Regions from separate parts of the Homo sapiens genome. Here region 1 is linked to region 2. Evidence: fine-mapped expression QTL. Tissue or cell type: gastroesophageal junction. Region 2 holds a variant in brackets; the other region holds the start of a gene. All regions are shown on one strand. Distances are between the middles of the regions.

Evidence for each region.
Region 1: ADRA1A starts here. The variant in region 2 is fine-mapped to the expression of ADRA1A in gastroesophageal junction (GTEx, PIP 0.96).

Annotation. Positions count from the first base shown.
Region 1 is chr8:26,865,569-26,868,480 of GRCh38, reverse strand. It overlaps ADRA1A (adrenoceptor alpha 1A), which reads left to right and starts at 1,203. Exons shown (of 3, transcript NM_000680.4): 1 at 1,203-1,545; 2 at 2,826-2,912. RefSeq lists an enhancer at 1,982-2,912.
Region 2 is chr8:26,829,470-26,832,381 of GRCh38, reverse strand. All of the region lies in intron 2 of ADRA1A (adrenoceptor alpha 1A), which reads left to right. Among named protein-coding and RNA genes, the nearest start is that of ADRA1A, 36 kb to the left of the region's middle. The variant C/T (reference allele first, on the strand shown) is at 1,073.

The DNA of each region.
Region 1 (2,912 bases), 36 kb before region 2:
CTCCTCCTATGGCACGAAATTCAGTTTTAAAAATATATTAAATTCAAATCAAATGTGTTAGGTGTGAGTTCTATCCCTACAGGTATGAGGCAGAGGTGGAGGACTTTGTATACAATAGAGAAATAAATACATATATTAGGTCTTCCATGACATAGGATTTACTGACCCTCTCATGGGCATTCCTCTGAGGCATTTTGAGATTTATTGCTATAAAAGAGCCTCCCAAACATTATCTCACTTAGAAAAGGTAATCATATTAATATGATTTTGTTCACAGGAGAGAATTTAAGTGCCACTGCTTAAAGTTATCTCCTTGTTCCTAGGTTTAAGGAGACCTAGTAAATAAGAACATTCCACTTTGTCTGCATCAATAAAGATGAAAGATGACTTAGGAGGTGGGAATTGGAGTGGGAAACATTTTTCTATGTTCCCGATATTCTGAAACACATGTGACTTTATTCAATCACAAGGTAAACAGATTATGTAATTTACCAGAAAAAAAGTAATAAGACTGGTGGTGCTAGGTTTTCATACTCCAGCTATTAATGAATTAAAGAGAGTAACACTCCTGAAAGGATACCATTTTCTCAAGAAAACTGGAAAAGATTGTGTGGCATTTAAAAAATACCAAACTCTGTGGCCATAATGCTCTTAAAATTCATCTGTCTAAAGAAATTAGAAGTGAATCATATTAAATAAGGTTTAGATATGTCCACTTTATCTTCCTGAAAATATAATTTCATTACAATCAGATTTGTCATATTTTATCTGATTTTACTTGCTATTTAAAACACCTTATAATTTACTTGCATATTTAGAATTACAATATTCTTAATATACTTCTTGATCTTAACAAAACCTAGGCCAAATGTTAATCAAATCAAGCTGTTCAAAGTTACTTTATAGCACATTCCTATGAACACACCATACACACAGCAATATCTAGCAAGGGTGTCAATTTTTCGTTATTTTTAAAAGCTCATTTAAAGAAGTTATTTACTACAAATGACTCTACACACACACACGCGCGCGCGCGCGCGCACACACACACACACACACACACAAACCTTTTTAAAGAAACGCTAGAACCCAACCCCCTCTAGGCCAGAGGAAAACATTACAGCTGTATACGCACTTGTGCCTGTTGCCGTAGAGTAATACGGTAGCAGCAGGAGATTACGGTACTAGCTGGGCTACTGCCTGAGTTACGTCAGCGAGAGCTGCAAAGTTCCTTGCTATTCTTTTCTGGTGTCGGGGAGCTGAATATTAAAAGGGTGATTGTGGAGTTACCGGTTATCTGCATTTTTTTTTCTTTTCTTATTTTGACTCTTTTTAAAAAATGCAGGTAAAGTGACAGCGGTTCAGGAGCTTAAAGACATCAGTGGTGGAGGGGTGAGTCAGCGGGTGCAAAAGGACAAGGATTTGGTGCCTCGGAGACACGGTCCCCTCTCCGCCTCCAGAGAAGAGCAGGCAGGCAGCTCCCGGGACCGAAGCCGGGTCCACATCCCCCGCGCGCGAGCTGGTGGCTCAGCAGCGGCGCTTCAGGTGAGTGCGCCGGGGCCGGCGTCCCGCAGGGCCGAGTGGGTGAGGGCAGACCTCCCCCGCCGTCTGGTGAGACGGAACCCCCACTTTTCCCAGCGCCTCCCGCTTTTTCCACCAGGTTTTATACCGGCCCCTCTACCCCACCCCCGATTCCCTTACATCTTCTGCGAAGTTGCCTTCTACTGAACAAGTGTCTTTTTAACCCTGTGTTTATCACCCTCGAGGTAGGAGGAAAAGGGTTTCTGCAGTGGCACGTTTTTAATACCACCTGTGAGGTCTCCAACTTGCGATTTTAACAAGAGTCTTTGCCCGAGGTCCCACCTCAGGGCCCAACCCCAGAAGGCAAGGTGGGCACTTCCTCACGCCGCGCTGTCCTGCCGAGTCCCTGCGGTAGGTTCGCAGTTGTGGAAACCCAGGTTTCTTACGCAGATGGTGGCCCCCAGCCCAGAAAATCGAAGGCGGCCCCTGCCCGCTGGCATGCCGGCTTAATGTTTACGCCTGCAAAATCCGCAGTGACTGTCACTTGCAAAGCTCCCTCTGCAGAGGGACGTCCTCCCCACCCCGTCCCCCGCCAGTCCCGCTACGGCTGGCAGCTGGAGCCCCTCGGGTGGCCAACAGTGAGGCTTGGAAAGGCGTCGTGGACAGACCTGGGTCGCTTTCTGTCTTCGGGTCCCTCCCGGCTTCGCTCGGGACCTGGCTCTCAAGCCAGCTTGGCTGGTGGACAGACCGGTGCGCTCTGCACACCCGAGTGCGAATTCCACCGGCGTGAGAGTGAGCGTGCTCGTGGTCCTGGCCCTGAGGTCCCTGGGTCGCAGCTGTTCCCTCTCCCAGGCCGCCCCCTCCAGGTGACTGCGAGGCAACCTGTTCTAACGGAAACCGAGTACATCCTCCAGAATTCCCCGGCTAGGATCCGTGCGACACACTCGCCAGCCGCAGTCGCCCCTCCGGGGCTTCGAGGATTTTAATTTCGTGGTACCTGCGCTCGAAATCCAGACTTCGAGCGCTGGAGCCTGGGGTTTTGGGGATTTGTTTTTTTGTTTGTTTTTCGCTTCGGATCCTGAACTCGGGCAGAGGTGACTCAGTAGAGTGCGCTAGGCAGGTTCCCAGTGGTGGGGGCGCGAGATGAGCTCCGAAGTCGCCTCCACCGCTGCCGGGCGAAGCAGCTTCTGGACCGCAGAACCAACCCGGCTCCCAACTGGTGTCCCCCAACCCGTCAAGCTCAGCACAGCCTCTTTCCCTGGGGCGCCTAGCTCAAAGCCGCCTTTCTCTTTGCGCTCTTTCAGGTGGACGCGGTCAAACGATGCCCCGCAGCCTCCTGGGTCTCAGCACATATTCCACACCTACGTCCCCTGACCTGTGCTCCTAGAAGC
Region 2 (2,912 bases):
AGAGGTCCCTTTATACCTAGATGCTTTTACTTCTATGGGAGAGATTCCTAAGAGGGGGATTTCTGGTTTAAAGGGAATGCGTGCTTGCAATTTTAACGATGTTGCCAGGTCACTTTCTCAGGCGTCTGGGACAGGGTTTCACCAGCAAGGCAGGAGAGCAGCCTGCTGCTTGTTCTCACCATGAGCGTCCCACCTGGAGATCCCACCTGAAGATCAAAGGGCTAATCCACTCCAAAGACTTCGTTCCCAACTTCAACATTTCTCGCTGCAAACCGAATCTCCTCCCTTCCCTTGTGAAAGGAAGGGGAGATTGGGAGGGGGAAGAGAAGGCTGGTGGGCCAGAGGAGCGTCCCTGGATTCTCAGATGGCTCCTTCCTCTAAATGGATGAGAAATGTGGGGTGAGACCAGCAGGCCTCTGTCCCCACTCCAGCCTACAAACCACACGGCCAGGCCCAGGTGTCTCTTAGGGAGAGGTGGGAGCCAGCCTGGAGCACAGGACTCCACAGGGCAGGGAGCCCACAGCGCAGGGGCGGTGGCTGCTGACAGCCCCAGAGACCATGACAAGGAGCACTAGACAGCAAAGAAGATGCAAGGATGGAAAGGAAGCTGCATGCAGCGTGTTCCCCCCAAGGCCCAAAAGGGTCCTTCATTCCCTGCGAGTGAAACTATGTTCTTCTTGTCCTGGAAAGAAAACAAGAAGACAATTGGCATGTGGCTGATCTACCCAGGCTGGAAAGAAGAAAGATTGAAGTGACTATTCTCAAATTTAGGAAAATCTATTTAGGATATTTGGACACAGATGTACCTCCTCCAGTGTCTAGGACATTGGGTGTGACCTGACACTTCCGTGACCTCTACACCCTTTCCAAACTGGCCATGATCAGTGGTGGGGTGTGGGCAGGGGGTTGGTACTGGGCAATCCCAGCAGAGCTCAGTATCAGTCTGCCCACTTGAGCACTGGCCATGGCATAGCAGGCTCTCTCTCTTTCTCTCTCTCCTTCTCTCTCTCTCTCTGCCTCGTCATCATTGGCATCTCTTCTCCCCTTACTTGTGTGTGAAATTAAGCTGACC[C/T]TATATGCTGTTTTTGTGACACAGAATCATCCATAATAAGCATTTCATAACTCAATCTGTTTCTGCCAATTGTTTTAAATCTCTCTTATTAGCTATGTTAGGCATGCTATTATCTTAATCTTCTTAACATCCATATGAGAGTTTGACAAGTCAGCAGGGGATCTTGCCTTTGCTGCCAAGGATATGTGATTAGGTTACAGCTCCAGAGACTGTGATGGCAGAGCCCCAACCAGGCCAATCTCCTAAGTATATTTCTTTAACTATAAAAGACCTCAGTCCCCCAAAGTCCAGGAAGTAACAGTGCATCCATGAGAACAAAGACACTTCTACAGACCAGTATCTGGGGCTTTCATCCAGTCATTTAACTTTGTGTATATAAGATAAAAAGAAAAAAGGTGAGAAAGACTCCCTCCCGCCCGCAATGACCCTAACCTCATCTGGGAGGCTACTGCAACAACCCAGCTTTGTTCTGGCAGGCTACAGAAACAATTTTAATATTCCAAAAGAGTTAACACAAGCCCAGAGGGAGTAGTTGACACTCTGGTAGAACTTGAATCATGCTTTCCCCTAGGATCATCTCAGGGTAAGAAAATAATTTGAGTTTTGGCAGCTGTGATGACTGTGGGTAGAACAGCTTATTTCTTGGTTAATTCCTTAAATAAACCTTCATCTTTGCAAATTCTTGTTACAGCCACAACTGATGAGAAGGTTCAACTATGCTGTCTCTCTAGCCAAACCGTCTTTGGTTTAACCCTCTGTTAACTCTTCCCCTTTCTTTGTTAGGAGAATATTGTCTGGCTTCAGGGTGTCATCTTTTCATGGCCATTTATTTCCCTGTGGTCCAGTCATGTGTTATCCTAGAACGAACAAGGGAGTCTTGATTAGTACATTTGGGATTCTGGAGATGGCAGAAGAAAACAAGGCTCCAAGCCAGCTTTCAGACTGCAAGATCTTAGGGAGCATCATAATACCACAGCCAAGTTCCTCCCCTTTCTTGGAAATAAGGGTTTCAAGAGCTGCCTTCAAGCTTTGAGGGCAGGTGCAGAAGAAATAAACCATGAAGCATCTCTTCCAATACCAGTCCTGTGTGTCTACCCATCCTTCGGCTTTCTCTGCAGGGGACCTGCCTGGAAGCAATCTGAGAAGCAGGGTCAGCTCTGGGTGGGAGGTGATACATTAACAGTTTTGGGCTAGGCTGGGTTATTGACAGTTCTGACACAGATCTCAGAATGGAGTCCATTAGAGGCCCAGGACAGTGCTCACTCTAATATACACTTAGTGCTGTCTTCAAACATCCGACATTCCTTCTCCCTGAAATACCACAATCCTTCCCCACCCACCCCCACCCCCCAGACACACACCCTTGACATTTAGGAGTGTGGAGCCACTATTTCCCAAATGTGTTGACCTCTACTTGGCTTGTTTGTACCTTAGCTAAGGATTTTCATGTTCTTCTGCAAAAACTTACCAGGGGCAGCGTGGGGCTGTCTATAAGTGATGTGTTATGGAATTGCTGATTTTTTTTTCCAGGTTTCAATTTTCTACTGGGTTGTCCTTCTGAATTCCATTGCAGCCTTTCTGCCTATATTTATAATAAACTCCAAATACAGGGAGTGCTCCTTGTTTCCAGATGTGGAATCCAGGATTATGTAACTTGGAGCTGTATTTCTTTGAGAGGTGATTAAGCATGTTATCATATTATCATATTACCGACTATTCACTTGTTATTTTTCCTTTCGTCATTCATTCAATCATCCTTCTTTTTCCTAACTATATTTTTTCCTAAGGGTAAAATTTATAATCTAATTTTAAGTACCAAGGAAAATTCTATTAGAATGAC